Regions from separate parts of the Homo sapiens genome. Here region 2 is linked to region 1. The links come from fine-mapping of genetic effects on gene expression. Tissue or cell type: testis. Region 1 holds a variant in brackets; the other region holds the start of a gene. All regions are shown on one strand. Distances are from middle to middle. Region 1 overlaps LINC02272 (long intergenic non-protein coding RNA 2272). Region 2 holds the start of LINC02272 (long intergenic non-protein coding RNA 2272).

Region 1 (11,692 bases):
TAAAATTAGATGACTTCACATTAAAATCAAACTGTCCTTGAAATGTCCACTGACCTGGCAACACATATTTATATTCTGTCTGTTGTTTGCCAAAAGGGACACTGTGCCTGGAGAATTTATATGACTTGCCCAATATTATAGCTAGTCAAGGACTGGCACCTACGACTGCTGAGTTCAAGTTCTGTTTCCTTTGCAAAATTCCACTGTGCTTCTCATTCCTGCTTCTCAGGAATATAAGTCTGCCTTCCAATGGAATTCTGGAATGATCAGAGACACCCAACTCAGACTTATGCTCATATGATCCTGACCTGGAACCAATTTATGCCCTTAGATGTGCAGGGTGAAATCAAAGCCCTCCAGTCTGGGGTTCTCCATCTCTGCTTCAGCAACTTCTAGGACTGAAAGAATGTTCCCTCTTCGTATGTTCAAAGGAGAACTGCAGGAATCCTTGGAGAAATTTCTCTCAGAATCAATTACTGTAGATGAGCACAAGCACTGTTAGTCATGACTCACGAAATGATGAAAGTAAGAAACAGTCAAGAATCCAATAAGAAATAAAATAATTGGCTAGGTTCATGATTTATACTCACTGTCCTCCAAATGTCTGGTCTCTGGAATGGAAATATCTTTCCTTAATTCTGTTATGGTTCTCTGCTCAGGGGAGCTACTGTTCCGGAGATCAATAAAACTCAACATGAAAATTATTCTCTTTGCCACTGTTGGGAAAACTCTTATTTACTCTATTGTTTTTTGGGCATATGTATCAGATTGTTTTATTCAATTAAACAATATTTTGCTTTCATATATATGTGATTCTTACTGGCTACAAGGTAATTGTATAATTAATGTAATTGGCTTGAAAATAAAATGTTGCTTTTTATGAGCATCACGACTTTTTTTTAACCATATCTTTTTCTATGTTGTGAGCTCTGAACACAAAAGGAAGAATTTTTAAATGTCCCCTTTCTTCAGGTTTAGTCTGGTGCTTCTTTATTTTCCTCCTTTTTCCCCTGTTTTCACCTAGCTCTTTGTCACAAGTCTGGAAAATACAGAAAAAAATTACCTTTCTTTCTATTTGCAGACTCTTAAAAAGCTATGTTGGCAATGGTGAATATTTATTTTAAATGCTGTCAGTTTGAAATTTGTTGTCACCTTAATAAAAACTTAAAACAAATGACATAAGTAAACAGAATTTAACCAAAAAAATAAATGAGTCAATGAACATGAATAGAAATTTCTTATTTTATCTGGCAAGCGAGTGAAGATATATATCAGTTTTATATCCTTCTTGAAAGTTATCTAAGTGTTCATCACACACAAAACAATGTTTCCTCCCAAAAGAAAAACTACATTTAAGGAATTTAGCTTAAATAGGTAAAACTAATAAACTATTGAAACTTCTAAATTAGATTTATATTTTTTATGTCTCTTTTAAGGCAGTGAAGGTAAAAATGATTTTATTTCACTTTACACAGTATTAAATTTCCTCTAAAAACTTCCACATAGTTTATACCAATATAAATAAAAAGTGTTTCTTCCAGGAACTTAAAGGAATTACATTTGAACACAATTAAGAAAATAAATGTAAACCTTAATAACCTTACTCATGTCAAATTGTGCTCCAATACACCTAAGTGTCAAATAGTAGTACACACCTCTTTGCTTATTTGTGAACTTGAACTTGATGCAGAGATTACAATGGTTCCTGTGGCGGTGTGGCTACCTCAAGAGGCCAGCTCTGAGATGGGTGTAGTATGCTAAAGATTTATGAGAAATCTTAGAATCAGCACCAGTGAAGGAAAGGGAAGGGAAGGAAGGAGAAATGGACAAAAAAAAATGATGGCTGTGATACAGTCTCAACATTGGCCTCGGCCATCCCTATGCAGAGCTCTAAGGCTGAGATGAACCTCCAGATTCTCCTAGCTGGAGAAAGAGGCCTAAGTGTTTATATCCCATGTCTACCAGTCACTGGGCATAGATCACCCTGGGAAGGGCCCATGATCTTGGGCCCTTCCAACAGAAGGAGTTATTTAAATACATCTACATCTCCTAGCCCAATTTATATACTTACATTTGAGATTTGTCTTTTATCACAGTTATATCACCAAAAATTATAGAAAGAGGAACATAACAAGTATGTTTTTTGGTAATATTAAGAAAAAAAAGTATTCAAGTCAGAAAAGTATCTTATTCTGCCCCCTAACTCCCCATCCTCCCACCCCCACTGATCCATCAAATCCCCCCTAAAAGCTGGCTCTTCCTTCAACCATGGATGAAAACATGGATAATCTTCATAACTATTCTCTCTCCCTCACAAAACTAAAATGTCCTCTGATCACTTATGGCCACTGTTACAGATCGATTTTTTTTGCTGATCAATGTATTAAGATCCAAGCATTTTTTTAAAGAACGCATAATTTAGTTTAGGGTTGAACTTCTTCTTTTCCAGGATTTTATCTCCTTCAGATTATCAGCCTGCTTGGTGGGCTTTATTTTTTCACTCGACTGGCTTCTCTCCCACTACCCAATCCCAGGCTGTTTGTGGCTTCTTGTCCCCTGTTATTGATAGAGGGAGTGAGAGGCGGATGCAATGGGGAGCAGTTTAGTTAATAAGGAGGAATGTATCTGTTCCATCAATTCCCAAATTCTGACCAGCCTTTGTGAAGCCATTCCCACAAGGCTTCAGGTGAAAAGGACATTCTTCCTTTTTTATAGGAATTTATAGCACACCAAAGATTCATATTCTTCAAAGAAAGACTTAATTCTTGATATCCTTGGCCCTTTCAACTCCAACTGTTGTACTCTAGAAATCAATGAAAGGTCAAAGTTTCCAAATCTGTTTTCTTCACCTCTTTTTCAAGTCTTGCACTGATGATGAGGCCTATCCTGCTGGAATGTGGTCATATTTGCCATGATGATTTTGTTGGTGATCTTTAGGACTCGTTTAACAATGAGGCCACAAAATTCCCGTTTCAACAAATTCTCTCTAACATTATTCAAAAGGTAGATGCAGAAGCCATGCATATTAATCACCCAGGCTCTTGTGTGACACAAATTAAATATATTTTAATGCTTGTGCAAGACACTTAGAGAGACCCTCACTGAACTCCCTTACAGGCCAAGCTTAGCTAGTAGCTTTACTAATGCAGTAAAACTTCTATTTATCCACTTAGGTCATTGAGCTAATTTACAGGACCTGATTGTCAAATCAGACTCTCAGGAATCAGAGCTTTTACCTATCAAACTTTACTAAATAATTTCAAGGATGTAGTCAAGGAAAAGGCTCAGAAAACGCAAAGACCTATCTGGATCATCAATGGCAGCTCCCAGATTCTGGTTCAGATTAATAAATTCAGAACTTTTAAAATATTAAACAATTTGAGGGAATGGCACAGCTTTCATGACATGACCTTCCCATCCCCTAGAAGCCATACCTGATAAATCCCAGGTTCTATTTTCCTAGGCAATCCCTAGCTTGGGGCATCCTAGTAAAAGCAGTTAAGAGTTAATGTGTTTCTTACTAGCAAATAACGTTAGTTTTTTACTCAGCAGTTAAGTTGACAGGGAGATTTTAAGGAGTCACCTATCTTCTTTTCTTTCCTCCAGTACTGTTTCTACCATCCACCATTCTACCATAAAGGGAGTGAAAAGATCTCAGGCCATCGACTTTAACACCTTCCTCTCAGCTGCTTAATGCTAGAATTCACTACTGGGGGGAAAGAAAGTGTTAGTTTACCTGTAGGGTATAATTTACAAACTAGTTTAATGCAACAAAAATAAAAAATCAGGGGGATTAGGTGAAAGTAAATGACTCATAACATTATTAGAAGTCTCCATTTTAAAATTAAAACTAGGTTCTCAAGTAAAATAATGAAAAAAAGTTATATATTGGCTCATATTCCTTAAAGGTCTCAGATAATCTTCCAAGGCTCATTTTTCTGCCCTCTTTCTCTGAGTTGGCTCAATTATTTGAGTCCATGTAGCAGTCCCCATAAGCTGCAGGTTTACAGCCAGACCAGAAGACTGAATCTAGCAGAAAGAAAGAACCTACTAGCTCAAACTAAAGGCCTAGAACTGTATTTAGTTGACTGCAATGGTTGACTTGGGTCATGAGCTCATTCCTGAACTAGTAACTGTGGCCAGTGGGACTGGCTATCCTGATCATTCCTAGGAGTTCCTGAAGTGTAGGGAGGGTGCAGCACATGGAAAGAACATGGTGAGGAAACATTCATTCTAGGCAGATGAGATACTGTTGCCATAGAAAGATGGAGGAGAGGTTGCAATCTGAAAACAACAAATGTCTACCACATCCTCAGACAAGAATTGGAGGAAAGGTCAAAGTAGATCAAAGTTAAACAAGTTTTAAAATTACACTATGGGTTTACTGTATACCACAGAGTTTAAAATATATTGAATTGAGGAGAGATTAAAAAACTGTTGATGAGTCAAATAAATGTAAAAAAATTATCTTTGACAGTTTGGCAGAAAGGTAAAGGTAATAGAAAGAGGCAACTAGGAAACCCACAGTTTTCTGAGACCCTGCCCTGAACTTCCTCTAACATCTGCGCTTTAAAATTTCTACTTCACACTGGGTGCAGAGTCTCACGCCTGTAATCCAGCACTTTGGAAGGTCAAGGTGGGAGGATTGCATGAGCCCAAGTTAGAGACCAGCCTGGGCAACATGGTGAGACTTTGTCTCTCCAAGAAGTAAACAAAATTATCCTGGCATGGTAGTACATGCCTGTAGTCCCAGCTGCTCAGGAGGCTGAAGTGGAAGGATGGCTTGAGCATTGGAGATCAAGGCTGCAGTGAGCTGAGATTGCGCCACTGTATTCCAGCCTGGGCAATAGAGCTGGACCCTGTTTCAAAAAAATATATAGAATTTCTACTTCTACTTTTTTTTCCATCTCTTCATGCTCCTTTATCTACTACTCATTATGTTTTGAAGGCACTATCCACAGCCTAGAAATACCAGCAGACTTTCCAAGAGGACTTTTTAAATAATTATGTAAATATATTGTATTTACATATCATGCTGTTTTCATGCTGCCTATAAAGACATACTGGAGACTGGGCAATTTACAAAAGAAAGGCTTAACAGATTTACAATTCCATATGTCTGGGGAGGCCTCACAATCATGGCAGAAGGCAAGGAGGAGCAAGTCACATCTTACATGGATGGCAGGAGACAAAGAGAGACCTTGTGCAGGGGAACGCCCATTTTTAAAACCATCAGATCTCTTGAGACTCATTTATTGTCACAAGAACAGCATGGGAAAGTCCTACCCCCATGATTCAATTATCTCAGGCTGGGTACCTCCCACAACATGTGGGAATTGTGGGAATCGAAATCAAGATGAGATTTAGTTGGGGACACAGCCAAACCATATCATATGTATTACATCATTAACCTTATCTTAAATCTATGTACCCTCTGTCTCACCTATCTCTGAATATTTTTAATGAGAATAAGAATAACAATAATATTCCTCCTTTCATTTTCTTTCTTTGTTTACTTCAATGCAATCATGGATGCATTTCTTGGAAATGTTAGTCATGTTATTTTAAGTGAATTTTCCAGCACAAGTTTAAAGATAGACATTTGAAAGATAAAAATCTGTTGCTAAAGGATAAAACTTTGCTTAAAGTAAATTCTGTGAAAATATTTAATGAAAAAGTCAGATAGTTTATTTTCTAAAATATTTGTTTTCTGCTGTGCAATCTTTAAAGAGGTTACCAAAAAAGAAACAAAACAAAACAAAAAAACACCAAAAACCCGAAACTGAAAAATGTACCAGAGAAGAAAGGGAGCTGGCATACTTCAGTATTAGCAAACTTAATTTAGAATGGTCATATGTCAGACATAGAAAGTACATGGCCCGGTAGAAGGTATCAGCTGAGAAGGCCCACTAGTTGGCATTTGCTTTGTCAAATGACTGCCAGCCAGGATCTGACCTTCAGGGTG[C/T]TAACAAAATTGGAAAGCAGCTAATAGACTCAGAAAACCAAGCTCATAAAATAGTGATCAATATGACTCATGACTACTGTCCCCAAAGGCAGTCTCTGCTCTAACCCCATGCCAAATTTAGAGCTAGACTCAGCACTTCTTTGCTTTCTCATTGAAGCTCTACTTGCACGAAATCCTGTATTATTGAAGTTGATGCTATTGGATATGTTAGAGAAGAGATGGAGAAAGAGGTTTTACTTTGCGCACCTACAATAATTTGAGCAAAGCATCTTGAAAACATGTAATTTCCATAAAATTTCTCTTCATCATGACTGCTCAAGGAGGCTCCTCTTCTCTTTGACTCCTCCCCTCTGGCCTTCTGTGGCATAAAGCCCAAAATTAAGGCTCAGATATGTGCCATCTTGACATCTATTGAAAGGCCTTCCAAGGGCCTAAATACACGTTCCCCTCCCAACTCTATGGATAAGGTCCACTAGCCAAAAAACCCTCCCTATCAAAAGGACCAGGTGCACTCCCTACTTATCCCTCAGTAGCAGGTTTCAGTTCCCTGCCAGCGAAATTATTCAAACAAGCTAGTCACATCCTCCTGGAACCAGTGGGTACTCCAACCTCTGGATACTACAATACCACAATGCCTGTCTCCCACAACTTCTGGTTGTCCAAGTGCAACCCTCATGTGACCCTGCACATCATGCTATACCCTTCTCCCTGGGCTGTGAGTATATACGACTCGTAAATTGCCACCAGTTTCATCTGCCCACTAACAGATGTTGTTTGTTGGGCTATCCCCATAACTCTAAGATGGGAATGTAAAAGGTGATTAAAGTACCATCCCATCAGTCCATCTGCCTCAAGTATTCTGACTTCCAGCATTTCTAAGCAAATTAGCAGTCTCCTTTCTCCGACTTCCAAATCTTCATTCCATCAGTGTACCATTTCAGGAGTGAGAAAAGCCTCTACGGTGGAGAATATTCTGGGAGAATAACAACAAAAGATTCCTGCAGCCACCAGAATCCACCCTGCCTTAAATTCCAATGAAGATGTTAAACAACTTTTTACGGTTACTGTACTATGTGTCTATAAAGCTAAAGTTCAATTTACAGTGTGAAATGTGACTTCCAGAAGACTAAGCCATTCATATTCTTTACCAGTACTTTTCCATCTCTATGCAGATCTAAAGTATATTCAGAGTTTTTGGTAAAAGTAGAATCAGAAAAATTGAGATTACTTGTATGAGTTCAATATTCACTAGAAAGAGATATAAAATTCCTAACAGCATTGTCTCATTTAGTCTTTACAAAAACAAACTATCATTTATGTAGAGTTGTTATCTCCATAGCACAAATGTTACCTCCACAGCACAGATCCATAGCATGCTGAGAAAGTGTTGGGTAATTTTCAGGATCACACAGTGATGAGTGTTCATTCGGCTTTCCTGCCTCTTTACTAATATGTGACAAAAACTGGGTAAAGCCCTGAGGGTACCATAACACTTGTTTATTACAAATTCTCCTCTGATTCTGTCTTCCCCAGTATATGGTAACCTTCTGAGGGTACACCTTACTGCCACACTCAGCATGCGCCACATAGTAGATGTCTGTATATAATCCATAGAATGCATGGATGACTACATGAATGAATATTCAAAAACATCCATTCATCTCTAGAACCATACAGAAAATATGGGTGAATTCAATTTATCAGATTTATATGTCAGTGTGTTCCCTCAGGGTGTATCCCTAATTCACAGTTACAACTATTTTCTCTTATACTGTTTTCCTTTTAAGTTCTAGACATGACCAACAGGATCTCAAGATCTCCCCTGTGGGACTGAACCAGATTTACCTTTTGCAGGTCTCAATTTGATAACACACCTTTGTTTGACCTCTTTCCCTTACTTCTTGCTTCTCTACTCAAAACTTTACATTTCTCGGGGAACTTTTCCTAATAGGTAAAGTGCATGGAGCCTCATCTCAGGGTCTACTTTTAAGAAACTCACCCCAAGACACCACCTCTCTTCAACAGAACACAATTTCTCTTTAAACATTCTAAAACTAACCATTCTTGATTAGCTTTAAGCATGCTATTTTGGCCAGGCTTGTCTTGATTCCAGCAACAGAAATATTTCATGTTTATGTTACCTTTTGCACGTGTCTAATTTTATCAGTTGTGTGTTGACTTTATAATTGAACTTGGTGTTTTGGCTTTTTTCTCCTTGAATCTGCTCTACTGTCTGGAGTGAACTGTCATTTTATCCATGGAAAAATGTATGAACTCTCCTTAGCCTTTTATCAACTGTTTTATTATGCCTTTTATTATTTACAACAACCTGCACTTCAGCAAGACAATGATTATTCTCCTCATTTCAAAAAAGAGACAATCTTGGGCCCAGAGGGAGGCCACCCAGGCATGTCATTTGGATGAACTGGAGCTGAGTCCAGGAACTCAGGTCTCCTGATTCCTAGAATAGTGCTCTTTCCCACATCTATCAATCACTTCTTGAGAATAAGTCTTCACATACTCATAATCACTAAGGTTGTTTTCACGTGTTCTTAAAATCTCTTAACTCTGCCACGTTTACAATCATATACCAAGCAAAACAGCAGATCTTACATGAAACATTAGAGAAGCCTGGGATATTTAATTCTATGCATATGTGGCAAATCATTACATATGCATAGTAAATCTCTTAACTGTCATTTGTAATAGGGATGAAGTCATGAGTAACTTGCCCCACAATGGTTCATCAGTCTGCAAAACAAAATCCAAAACATCTCACAGTGTGCATATGAAGGTGTCTGCAAGCGAAATTGTCTTTTTGGTCTGAAAAACAAGATTTGTATCTTCCAAAAAATGTCTTCTGTTGGACTGCTTACCTTCTTCAATAAATCAGGTTATCATAACCTCACACTTCAGCGTTCTTCTATTTCTGGATTTTTCTCAGAAATTGCCCAGGGCAGGGAAATAAGAAAAATAATCTATATGTTCTTGGCTATAAAATACTGTTATCTTGGCTCTATACTAATCTGGCATGTTTATTCCTTTTTCACATTCTTTATATAAAGATGTGTCTTCATAATCCTAATTTAAAATAATGAATTTGGTAAAGCAATTATAAGTCACCTTATATTAATAGAAAATAACCCAAGGTCATGTAGAAATATATATTGACACTCCTCAGTATTTTAGAACATTTTATCTCAATTACCCATTGGAGATTTTAATTCAGTTGTGCATATTCAAAAATGTAGTTTTTTGATAATTTCCTTTTTGCCTGCAAAGGAGCAGGGAGAATTTGTTTAGAAGTCATATTGCCTAGTCTGTCTGCACAGAAAGCTTTTCTTTACCAACAGGAAAAGTGTTGATATTGAATTAATACCACCATCGTAACAAGAAAAAAGTTAACATCTGCTCTACTGTAAAAGAGAAGACAGTAAAGCTATTCATTTTTTCTTGTTCTAATAACACTCTTTTGAATAAATTTAGTCCTCACTAAGACTTTACAATAACATTATAGTAATGTGAGGCCCATTAAAAATGCTAGAACTTAACAAATGATTTTATTTATTTATTTATCTATTCATTTTTGAGATAGGAAAGACCGTGAAAACAGGGAGACAGGTAAAGAAATCAATAGCTTGATTCTCTACATTTAGATGACCGAGGAAATGTCTCACGGCAGTTGGATGAAGAAGCCTGGAGTTTAAGGGAAAGTCTGGGCCAGTGATATACATTTGTGTCATCAGTGTATAGGTAGTCTTTTAAGGTAGAGAACTGGATAAGATCACTGAAGAGTGAGGATAGACAACAGAAACAAAAGGTAACTTTCAGTAGCATGGCCTTTATTAATCTGCATATTCCCAAGAGCTCCACAAATATGATATAGATTCAAATGATCCATTCTTTTAGAATTAGCATAAAGCGAATCAAACATGGCATCATCCTGTCATAAAAGTTCTCTTCTCCCTACATGTGACTAAAATGCAGGTTACAAAAATTCTAAGTGTTGAGGACTTCTATTCGTGGAAACTTTCTTCACAAATTAATGATTGTGATGATGTCAGACAAGCAAAGAATGGTAAATGGTGAAAAAATTATACAATGCCAAACCATATGATTACCTACAATAATCCTTCCTTTACTGATAGCTGCCCCCAAAACATCTCTGTATCTTTGTAACTCTTCCACATAACCAATAATTTCCTTTCACTTAAAATATGTTCTTTATTTCTAATCACATTGGACAAACCCACTTACAAGCTCTACCGGACTGTGTATGTGTGTTTATACATTTCCATTTAAATATGAACTCCTTAAACTTTCTGTTTACTTTGATCAAAAGCATTGTTTTTGTAGAAACAAAATGGTGACAACACACACATAGTACATAGATGTAGATGACCTGATATTCCAGGATAGATGTTTAGAAGTGGTAATATTAGTCTATCCTAGAGACAGAGATCCAAATCTAGAGATAGAGATAGAGAGAGAAAAACATAGATCTAGACAGACTTTACAAATGATATTAAAGCAATATTAGGCCTATCATATAACGTTAAAATTTGACCTATTAATATACTGTTTTATGTATTTCATATATTGTATTACATATATGATGTACTATATATTATAGTTTTATATGTGCATTTTAAGTTCAGATTGTGATATATTTTAAGTAGGAACCATACATGAAACTGTTCATTTAACGAGACTTTTTTCTGGCACTGATTTGTTACGCCAGCAAGATTTCAGCATTCTTAAATATTTAGATAATTAGATGAGGACTTCTTTTTTCTTTGTAACCTCATGCTGAGCCTCATGGGAGTACTAGGAAAAAAAAAAACTACAGAGTATGTGGATAACAAATCAGTTTCAAAACCAATAAACCCAAATTTATATACTTTATGCAGTGATCATTTATATTCCATTCATCCTTTGGATACTTGAAACGATCCCCCAACAACAGCTGTTACGATAGATGACAGTGTACCACTTGACCTCAATATGGCAGATGTGTGTGCTTACTGCAGCTGTCAAACTATAATAGAAAGAGCAGCAGAATTCTACCAAAGCTATGTCTACGAGAAACCAAAAGTATTTTTGCGTTGTACACAGATTAGAAAAAGAAATCCTAAATTCAAGGTACATAAATGAAATAAATTGGTCGTTTTACAATGTGTGGACTAAACCAATGAATAGTTCATTGTTGTGTTCCAAATAATTGATTTCCCATCATAAAAAAAGATGAATATCTCCTCCCCATTTCTGCCAACTGGCTTTACATGATACTAGGCTCTAGGTTCAAAGGAATGAGAGATCAACTGCTTCTGTAAAAGCCATCACCTCTGATCTGCATCTAAGTTATCCTAAACCTTGCACACAAACACACACCTGCAAACACTCATGCAGCAACACTGTAAATAGAAGACAATAAGACACATTTACATTTAAATGTAATTACTCTGAAAAAAAAACTGATGACAAATGATAAGACAATCACTTGGCAATAATGATTGTTGTTGCCTATTCAGGATTGCTCCCGTTGATCATTTAGATTTCTTTTGGTCCCTTTATAGGTGTTTATGTTCAAAAGAACAAAATAGAATACAGCTTGTCTGAGCTGCACTTCTTTGGTGATACTTTCCAGCATAACTAATGTTGTTTTCTATGTCCTGAAGCCCAAGCTCACCTTTCTTTTCCTAATATGGTCAAGTAACTGGCTGAAAA
Region 2 (11,692 bases), 15 kb after region 1:
CCCTGGCTGACTTATCCAGAACTATGCCCTCAGTACTGTGGACAGGCATTATTCACCAAATAAATGAATTTCACAGCTGCAAACTCGACCTAATAGTCTACAAATCCGATAAAATCTGATAAGGCATCCCATATGCAATTCTTGATCTCTTATCATGGCAAATCTGTCAGATGAAAGATCAGGTTCTCCCACATCCTTGAGTTAAGGCACATTAAGCAAAAATTCAACCCCCTCTCTAAAGCCAAATGACAGGTGACTTACCCCACCCTTGTTCCTCCAGCCACATTCTCTTTTACTGATACCTCCCCACCAGCAGCCGCTACAGCAGCAGCCATGCTAGTAAGGCCCCAGCAGGCTTCAGTGATACAATTACACAAATTAGGACTTAATGTTCAATTTTTTGTGTCTTCCAACTCTTCTTGGCTAGACTGTAAGAAACTCCAAGTCAAAGTAAATTTTCTGCTTCATGTAGACATGATCTAAGCTTCAGTAAGAAAATCAATAAACATTTTTACAAGAAATAATACGATGGAACTCCAAAGTTTTCAACATTCTTCTAGCAACACTCTCAAGCTTCAGAAGCAAATTTATGCATTTCTTTTTCCCCTACATCAGCCATTTCAGCAGAGTTCTCATTTGGGGGAATGTATTTTATTTTATGTTTTATTCCCATGTTGAAGTAAAAAGAACATTTTCTTTCACCACGTGTATTTTTCTAAAGTGAACTTTTCATTTCATATTGTGGATGGCAGCAGCCAGCCCATGTTCCATGATCCTCAGGCACGGCTTTGTATACTGGTCCCCAAACCAGATGAGATGCACTCATCACTCAGCCACCAGGGCTATCAGTCAGAAGAAAACTTGTCGGATTGCTTAAAAAAAAACAGCCAAGGAAAGAACCTCACAGCCAAGGCAAGAACGTCACAGCCAAGGAAAGAGAGGACAAAAATTTAAAGCATTTCAAAAATGCCTTGCTGAATATTTAATGCAAAATGAAAAGAAAGGGCAGTCTCTAAAATTGGACAGAAAAAATGCAGATTAAGAAAAACCATATTTTCTTTTTTAGCATCCGAATAGATTTGTCCCCAAGTTTTTTTAATCAAATGAAAACATCAAATAATTCCAGAAAGCTTATCAAATCTACAACTTCAGAACAGTAAGGCAAACATTCTTGACAGACAAAATATTTTATTGTACAGCTATAATCTAGTCATTTTATATTCCTGAGGTACCTTCCACTTTCCACCACAAAGTCTAAAATATAATAAATGAATCTTATTTTTAATCATCACAGTAGGATTATAGAGGGGAAAAAATTTTCTAGTTCCAGTTTCCTCTGCTTTCTGTACTCCATCCACATTGCATGTCTTGTATGCATTCCAACTTGCTGCATTTTCCGGCTCAAAGCCAATGAATTTGCTGTTCCCTCTGCTGGAAGCCTGCCCCAACCAGCCCTCCACCTCACTTGTCACAAGCCTCTTTATCAAACACATCTCATATGTTCATTCATTCCCTCAGCAACCACTTACAAAGAACCTGCTATGTACCCAACACTATTCTAGACACAGGTGTTACATCAGCGAGCTCATTGGGCTCACATTCTAGGAAGGGAAGAGAGGCAACGAATAAATAAACAAATAGTATGAAGTATGTCAGATGGAATAAGTACCATGGGCAGCACTAATTCAAGGTGAGGGGAAATGGGATACTGAGATGGCAGAGATGGTTTTTTTTTTTACTGTGTAGTTGCTGTGTAGTTTTTGAAAGTGGCATTAGAGAAAGAATCTGAAGGAAATTATAGGGTGAGTCATACTCATATCTGGGGGAAAAGCATTCTAGGCTGAGAGAACAGCAATCACAAAGATTCTGAGGAAGGAGCATGCTTGATGTGTTTGAGGATTAGCAGGACGCTAGCATGGCTAGGGCCAATAAGCAAGGGAGAAAGGGTCAGGGGCTACTGATAAGTAACAGGATCAGATGGTCTATGGGGGGGCTCCCACTCTACCCTGAGCAAAATAGGAGTCATCAGAGGGTTTTGAGCTAAGAAGTGCATAGACTAACACTAGGTTTCACCAGGATCACTGGAGTGCCCGTGTTGAGAATGGATTGTAAGAGGGGAGGGGAGAAGCAGAGAGAGCAGTTACGAGTCTGTGCAGTAGACTATGTAAAAGACAATGGTCTCTTGGAGCAATGTGATGGTAGTGATGGTGATAAGACAGTGCAGGATTCTGCAGATTTCTGTCAAAAAGTAGGACTGATAGCATTGACTGAGGCATTGGCTGTGTTAACTTCAATATGACATACTCAAGGAAACCCAATTTCAGACCAGGTTAAGGCTTCCTGCTATATACACCCAAAGGACCTGACATCTATTCTCATAACACGTTGCATCCTTACAGTCTTTTTGACAGTTTTATCTTCTCCTGTAACTCCAGCTCCCAAAGCAATATTTTTCATGTTAGATGTCTAATAAACATTCTGTGAAATGATGCCTTGAATGCCAAATTAGAGGGTTTGTGCATTTCTTTATCTCAACTTGTAATGCCCTCTGTAATTTACTGACTTGATAAACCCCTATTCATCTGCCAATTATCACCTTCTCCTGAAGCCTTCCATTGCCCCTTTTCCCAAGACAAAGTGAATCCCTAACCCCCTGGTTTTTGAGCCTTGTAGTACTGCATCTATTGCCATGTATTGCAATTTACTTCTGTGGTATGGTTAAAAAAATCAACAGATGTGCTCTTAGCAAACAATTCTATCTAATGGTCAATGGTTTATGTTGCTGCAATGCAATAAACTGTCCTCAGCACTCTTAGGCCTCTACGGCATATGCTATATGCACAAGTACCAGTATATGTGACTTTAAAGAATGATAACAGTGTATTGAATATTTACGTTATACCACACTTTATGGAAGGTATTTGTCTAAATGATCACATTTGCTTTCACAAAACACTGTATGAATAAGAAAAATTTTTAGCCCATTTTACAAGGGAGTAAACTGAGGATAGACTGCTTGCCCAGCTTATACAGGTACTGTCAGAGTGAGAATTCAATCCTAAGCACAAAGACTGTCATCAAACAACCTCTATGCCCTGCTGCCTCTCTCAGAAGAAGCGGGTTGAGTTCTATGTCTAGGCCTAGTACAGATGAAAGATAATAGACACAGAAAATTATATTTAAGTTAAATCAAGTGTTCAGTGGGAATAGAAACACCCAACGCCTAAGCCAAAACTGACAATGTTGACATATAACTTCCAGGAATTTTCAAAAATATGCAAGGCAAGATATTTTTCATGGGATAATATATAAGGCCATCGAATCCATTTAATTTCATTTCCAAAAGATAGGATGGCCTCAAGAGACATGTGAGCTACATTTATTTTTAGTTTCACCTCTTCTAACAAACAGAAGCTTCCTTGAAATAAGCCCTCTGCCTTTTCCATTTTTCATCCCACTACTCAGCAAGTTCTTGTTTAATTTCATGGAATAGTCATTCAAATCTTGCTCCTCTTATGAGTAAATCGACTCAAGCCTGAAGAGATTAGATTACTCAATCCCATCATACAGGTGATTTTTAGCCAAAAGACGCCTGGTCCCTGGACTCCTGTTGCAATGCTTTCTTATCTCCCACCACATTTAGAACCATAAAACAGAGTCATCTACAAGAAAACTAGGACTCAAGAAGAAAGAAAGGAAGGGGGTTAGGAAAAAAAGATGGGAAGGAAGGAAGGGGAAGGATGGAAGGAAGGAGGCAGGAAATATTTATTGTCTTTACTTAATACAACAAACTCCAGACGCAGGTCCAGTTACAAATCCCGTTTAGTGGAAAAATTCCTTCTTATTGATATTGCAGAGTATGTGTCAGCTACTGTGTGGACATCATTCTCATCTAATAATGCTTTTTAATATAGCCATTTTCTTGTTCATAAATTATCTCATTCAAGTCTGGCATTGTATTGAGACAGTAGAGTCATTTGTATTTCATTGAATTTCCATTTCCTAGACTGTGGCAGTAATAATCTCCAACATAAATGACTTTATAACCCATTATTAAATATTTGGCAAGCACTTCATCTGCAGTTGACACATTAGAAAAGCAGAACCAAATCTCTCTATAGCCAAGAATGGAATCATCAACCAGTGAAGTAGATATATACCATAAAAATTAGTAATAATAAAGTCAAGCAATGACCAGTTTACCTGCAGTAGATTCTCAAGTATGAAAGTTATTCCAATACACAGTTTCAAGTTCTGGCAAATTATTAGAAGAGACCTATCTTACAAGGTAGGGACCCTTTTGCCAACCTCTACTCCCTCTACAAGCCCAAATTCCCCTGAGACCTCTGCCCCTCTGCTCCCCACCCAACACACAATGCCATATATATTTCGTGAAATTTCTTCACTTGCGTTTTGATTAATTTGACTTTAACTTTCATTGCCCTTGACACCAATTCTTTGCCTGAGAAAGGCTAGACATATTTAATAAATAGCTACAGGCTAAATTAAATTCAAGCATTAGTTCAATGCCCTATCACTTCTGTGAACACTTCTTGCTTCAAGTGTCTAGTCTGCTGGAGATGGATTGAAAGACACACTTCTTTTTGTCCTCAACTAACCTCTGAGATGCTTTTGGCTGCAACCCAGGGCCATTAATCTCAGTGATATATTCTTCATCCGGATGCATCATCTTTGTGTCTTCTGGTAGGACTATTTGAGGAATGTTCCTAGACATTCATTTTCCTAGACTCTGAGTTTCTCTGCAATCTGGCCTTGCTGACTGGGTAGATCAGCCCATGCCATAACTGCCATCAACTTATTTCAGGGCGGGAAACAAGATTCCAGAACACTTCTGAGCAGTGACAATGGGCATAGTCACTCGTGTTCTTTTCTGGACCAGCACCTCATGAGTTCACCTTGCTACCATCGAGGAAATCCAGAACAACTACTCAAGGACATGTCTGAATGAGTCACTGAACCATGGCTCTGTGAGGTCAGCTGCTCTCTGATCCACTCGCTCCTCAGCTTAAAGACATGGCAAGTTCCAGCCAAACTTGATCACCCATCCCAACACATAGCAGTAGCTTTTAAGCCTTAAAAGTGATCAGAATGATATGAGGCAACTTGTTAAGTGCAGATTCCTGGCACACACTACTAGAGACATCAAATTGAGTGGTTTGAAATGATGACAAGAGAGCTAACACTTTAACGAGTTGTTTTGAGACAGGTGGATTTGGACTATAATACTGTGAAAATTACTAGCCTTCCGTCTGTGCTGCATGCCATCATGTTTTCATTAGTTTCACACTATTATTCTTGTGAATCAATGGAGATCAATGGAGTCTACTAGTAGGGATTCAGTAGACCTTCCTTTTTCAAGTAGCTAGAAGGGAATGTTGAGGAGAGTCCATTTTCAGGGTACAGTTCTCTGCTGTCTGTCATATTAGCATATATACTTGTAATAACTGGTTTAATGGTATTTACTCACTAATTTTACAGTTACTGCTTAATTGTACCAATAATTAAGTTATACATATCAGGTAATTTTTTAAAGAGTATTAGTTTGCATATTAAAACCCAAGGAATTATCGCATTATAGAAAATGTCACAAATATAAATATATGATAGAAATATGTTTTAGGGAAAGAAAAATAAGTCTACAGTTGTAAGATATTGAGAAACGAGGGCATAACAGTTTGGCCTTTATCTTGGTTAATAACCTGACCTCAATGGTTCTTCTGTTTGATTAAAACTAGATAGTTTCTTAAAAGCTTATTTTCTGTTCTCATATTTTATCTAACCTCCTAGGTCAAAGATAGTGAGACAAAAAGGAATTGCTCAAATACTGAGATGCATGTCAACTCTTCCAACAACCTCCAGAATTTACTGAGCCTGTAACACAGCTTTTGTAATCCTTTTCTGTGAAATCCAGTACTGTGTCAGCTTCGTTAGGGTCTAAAGTGTACCTTTCATAAAGGACCTCAAGATTTATTTTCCTGAGCTTTAAATGAGTGAAAATGTGTTTTGTTGAAACTTCCCAAGAAGTAACTGCATTTTCTATGGAATCTTCCATTGTTTATGGGCCTGATGAAAGCATTTGGCACTTAATGATTCCCAGACTATTTCAACTTTATAAAAAATCAAGAAAAAGAAAAAAAAGGTGAAAAGTAAATGTTTTGAATGCTAACAATAAAATATGTGGATTTTTAAACCTTACAAAGAAATGAATGCAATGATTTGCTTCAGATGTTATGAAAAATTTTAATGACTGTTGACCTGTTCAAATGAGGAAAATGAAACATGAGAGAAAGTGACTGAGAACAAGATATCCAGGTGGCCCTCTGAAATTCAAGTCTGTTGCTATTAGCCCTGGTTTAATTATCTTCCACTCCCTCACAGTCAGTTTTCCCATAAATGTTAATACTCCCTATGGAATCTCAGCCCTTACTTTGGTTAGACCATTTGTCAGTACTCTAAGTTCTGTATTCTGCTCAACATCTAGCCAGTTAGAGACACCACACATAGAGCATAGTGACAAAGGGTCAATTTTGGACAACTACAACCTTTAATTTGAATTTATTATAATTACAGAAAAAACTATTATAATTTTCTCCAAATTATTTTGGGCAGAAGAAACTAAGTAGTTTATCTTTAGCTGATGCCACCAATTTAAAATTGACTTCAGAATATTTATTATATGATAAAGGCGACTATTTGTATGAATGTAACATTAAATCCCCTCATTGCTAAGATTAGGTTATATGTAAAGTATGTAGAAAGTACAGACAATACCTTCTGTTAAAGGATTTTTATCATTTAAATATACCTTCAAATGTAAGAAACCTATTAGTATGGCTTGATTGCAACACTACAGCCTTCGTTTTATTAAACAGGAAAGCCAATGGAGTTTACCCAATTACTTTGTCAACACGGTTTAAGTTTGAAAGAGAAGATAAAACAACAAAAATTCTGGAGTACAGTGTTATAGCCCAGATTCCTTTAACTCCTGATTTTTCTATTGCCAAAATCCAAAGTTTAGAAATGTAAGTGAACAAGCTCTGAAGACTCATTATTTACTATTTGAGAAGTATCTAAAATGTAGTGAAAGCTGAACAGAATTTCCTTGGAGCTCTTACTAGCAACATATTAGTAATAGCAATGATTGATTTTCATGCCGTTCACTCTTTCTTCACATCTCCTCTGCCTTCTCGCACCCCAAATCCAATAAGTGTCTCTACATTCTACCCTGGTCTCTTTTTTTATTTTATTATTATTATTATTTTTTGAGACGGAGTCTCGCTCTGTCGCCTAGGCTGGAGTGCAGTGGCGCGATCTAGGCTCACTGCAAGCTCCGCCTCCGGGGTTCCCACCGTTCTCCTGTCTCAGCCTCCAGAGTAGCTGGGACTACAGGCGCCCGCCACCACGCCTGGCTAAATTTTTTCTTTTTTTTTTTTTGTATTTTTAGTAGAGAGGGGGTTTCACCATTTCAGCCAGGATGGTCTCAATCTCCTGACCTCGTGATCTGCCCACCTCGGCCTCCCAAAGTGCTAGGATTACAGGCATGAGCCACCCCGCCCGGCCTTACCCTGGTCTCTTTAAATCTTCCCAATTCAATGACCTCTTAGAAATATGCTCCCTGACAATAATGTATGCTCCAAAATAAACTCCCTCTGATTCTTTTTATCTTTCCAATAATCTATACTCTTTGAATCTGAGCCAGCATGTAGCTAGAAATTTGGAATAAAATATCTATATTGGTAAACAGTGGTTTCTTTTTAAGTGGAAAAACCAGTGTTTTCTTTTTAAGCAAAAGGATAATTTATTGGCTGCTTTAATTAGGAAATCAAAGTAATTGTATAACCTTTAGTCACAACTAGATCCAGAATTGTGAAGAATGTCATTAAGAATCTCTCACTCCTCTGTTTTTCACTCAAATCATTTATTTTTAGCCACGTTCCATCCATGAACAATCAAAATAGCTCTGGAATGCTGTAGCTTTACGTGATACTTAGTATTTGCAATCTCAGAGGAATGGAGATCCTTTCTCCCCTGGTATACATATAATTTCCCCCAAAAATGCCTTGATTGGCTCTGCCTGGATTATATGGCAAAACTGGACAATCACCAAAGCCAGTGAGATGGGATCAGTGATTAGTTAGCAGAGATCAATTTCCATTTCTGTGGCAAGCAACTAGGTGTTGTGATTGAGAAACTACCATTTAGGAAAGGGGAAGCTCACAAAAGGAAAAGAAGGGCCATTTTCCGATGCCACCTCTGTGGACTGAATGACCTGTTCACTATATTAGAGATGTTTTCATTCCTTGAGAAAATTTGATACTACAATTATTTTCCATTGAGTGAGATTGCTGGTAATGTCACTGGGATATTGAAAAAATCATTTTACCAAAGGACCCTTCCAGAATCCCCTTAAGGATGGCTCATCTTCTTTTGCTTTTTATTTTATTTCCATGATGATTTAATTCCAAGGTTTGCTGCTCTCTGAAAATATAAGTGAATTTATCGCTTTTCAAAGAACACTTGAGAAACGAATCAAGAGTCAAAGAACCAAAATACACACATACTTCTCATCTGCATTGTAGTCATAGGGACAAATTTTCTGAGAAGTTGGTTTCCAGTTCATTTCTAAAGCATTGCTATAAAAAAATCATTCTCAGTAAATACATCATATCATTATTGTTGAAGTAAATCAAGGAAAAAGGAAAAGAAATATGGAGGGTACATATTATTTTTCCAAAATACAGTTCTTCAACTTCCATCTCATACCCCTGGTGAAAGATTATCTTTACTTATTATGTTATAAATTAGGCAGAATCTTGGAATTACCTCACACAAAACTACTCTGACAGCCTCTTTGAACCTGACATAGTTTAGACTATATTTATTCATTTGGAGCCTACCTCTTCTCTAAAGATAATGAATTCCTGACAAAGAGTCAGAGCTTTTAGATATTTGACATCAGGTAAAATCTTGCCCATTTTTTTCTAAATAACTATAAAATCTGGCATGAAATATTTAGGATCTTAGATTGTAATTTTTAAATAAATACTACCCATCAATAAATTTGTATGTTAAGCACATATGTTGAGCTTGGATTCAAGGATGCTGCGGGCTAAAGTATTAATAGTTTAAAGCTGGAGCATCATCAAATGATGCTGAGAATGATGTTCCACCATTACATAGCATTGGAATGCAGTATTAAGAATTTACTATGAGACAACATAGCTAAAACATTTCAACAGAACAGATGATCATATTTGTAACTTCAATTAATATCAAATGCCAAAACTTCTCAGTGCTTTGCAAATTCTGTGTACTGTTAAATTGTCCAATTATTATTTCAAAGCTGTGGTGACACTTCTCAGTCCATCCAGGCACACATCTCTCTCTATCTCTGTCTCCCTTTCCCTTCCTCTCTCACTTCAAACATACACACAGATGCATATATATGAAGTCTCTCTCTCACACACACACACAACTTGCAAATACAAAAATATATTCTTCCCATTATGGATTTTCATTGTACTTGGTGGAAAATCTCTTCAGACCATGTGAGACTTAAGACAGACTTTGATCTGGATGTTGATATCACATTGGTTCATAGACATCGGTTCAAAACTCTGTATGAAGCTTTCCACAATTATGTTGTAACCTTGGTATTCCATTCTCTGCATTGCCGTCCAAGTACTGAGGTAAAAGAATGCCATGGCAGTGTTCAGCCCTGGAATTTCCATTAAAAAATGTGACCATGTGCATGGTGTAGATGAAAGCAAGATGCCCTGAAAGCTTTTGTTAAGCAAGTTGAAATAAGGCAGGTTATAACTTTCAGAGTCACTGGGACATAGCCTTAAACAACGAAGCAAAAAAGTAGGTGGATGGAAACTACAGCAACTGCCGAGACAGCTCCACATAGCTTTAAGGGAACTTTTTATCTTTTTTGAACAAAGATGTCAGACTAGTCAGACTGTCTGGAAATCCCAAAAAGAAAAATTTCAGCATACTTTCCAGATGGTAGAGGAAAATATCAAATACAAACCCTATCATATGTTTCCCCATTTTGTTGTGGGGTGTCATGTTTTTACCTATACTCATGGATCTTAATACCAGTCATATTCACTTCTAAATTAAAGTGCAACAAGAAATAGTCAAAGGCAAATATGTGTATATATATATATGTAAATATATGTGTGTGTGTGTGTGTGTGTGTGTGCATGGATAGTGCATGTATATACACATATACATGATAATATCTAATACAGTAAAAAATATACAGGAATTGGATATTCTTTTGTGAATATTTTAGATGATAAAATGAAGCCCCATGAAGTATTAAATTTTGAAATAACTTAAAGAATGTAATTGGATTGTTTGTAACTCAAAAGATAAATGTTTAAGGGGATGGATACCCCATTCTTCATGATGTGCTTATTTCACATTGCATGCCTGTATCAAAACATCTCAGGTACCCCTTAAATAGATACACCTACTGTGTATCTACAACATTTTTTAAAAATTAATTTTCTTAAAAAAGGAATTTTCAAATGTTTATCTTTCTATAACCAAACTGTTAGTCACATTATCACATTTGAAATAATTTTTAATAGAGTTTAAAATATTGTTAATGATAGATTGATTATAAAACCTATTTAGATCTCTGGATATAATTTTCAATGTGCTTTTACATTTTCTACTGCTACTTATAATTATTTATCTTGCTGTAACATCAAAATTTTCATTACTGTCACTCTGTCTGCTCCCGGCCAAACTCCCTACACCTCCTTTCATTGGCCTTCCTGTTACTAGTTTGGATGATTAACAAAGTTGTCAAGCTTGTTAAAAGTGTCTTTTCCAAATTAAAATAATAAAACAAAACATCAAATTAGAAAATATCAGGATAGCTATCCCTAAGGCCATTTCACACAACTTTCCTACACACTGCCTAAGAAAGCCAGAAAAATGATAAAACCCAAACTGAAAACTAGGAAAGTCAATTCAGAAGAGATTCTATATACAACAAAGCAGATTGGATTAAATCAAAAAGTACAATTGATGGTCTAAGTGTGGAGAACCTGCCCACTGAAAGAAAAATGGAAAGACCTGGTAACTTCCTTTTCATCTCTGTCCACTGGGTCAGCTGCGCAAGATACATACCAACAAGAAAACCAGTTACCCCACTACTTAACAGATGGTGCATTCAATTGATCCAAAGCACCCTCTTTCTTAATCTAAATCTAATCCTACCTTCCACCCCAACACCTCAACACACACACACTCATACTTCTTTCATTCTTTTGGAAAATAAAGCCTAAAGAAAGAAAGTAAACAGGAAGAGAATACAATGTGTTTAAAAAAAAGATTGGAGTGATTTTATGACATTTTAGAAAATGTAACCCTCCAAGCTAAGATTTGTAGATGGTATGAAAATTCTCAATAAATTTTTAAGAAGTGGATGTAATTTTTATATATCCCATTGCTTTGCAATCTAATATTTATTCTAAAGATAAGATTTTATTCAGAATTGGGCTAGGAGTTGTGCATACTAATATCAGATAGTACAATGACTTAGTTGATTTAGTTGTGCTAGAAAAATCTATATGATATCAGTGAATTAAGGATGGGGCAGTCAACATGGCGTGTTTATAAGAAACACCAGACCTGCAGACATCTCTACTAT

The links. PIP is the estimated chance that this variant, and not a neighbour inherited with it, causes the effect.
Region 2: LINC02272 starts here. The variant in region 1 is fine-mapped to the expression of LINC02272 in testis (GTEx, PIP 0.95).

The regions. Positions count from the first base shown.
Region 1 is chr4:156,623,093-156,634,784 of GRCh38, forward strand. It overlaps LINC02272 (long intergenic non-protein coding RNA 2272), which reads right to left. Exons shown (of 5, transcript XR_001741905.2): 3 at 11,655-11,692; 4 at 591-1,757; 5 at 1-476. Among named protein-coding and RNA genes, the nearest start is that of LINC02272, 14 kb to the right of the region's middle. RefSeq lists an enhancer at 11,106-11,607. The variant C/T (reference allele first, on the strand shown) is at 5,966.
Region 2 is chr4:156,637,646-156,649,337 of GRCh38, forward strand. It overlaps LINC02272 (long intergenic non-protein coding RNA 2272), which reads right to left and starts at 4,858. Exons shown (of 5, transcript XR_001741905.2): 1 at 4,620-4,858.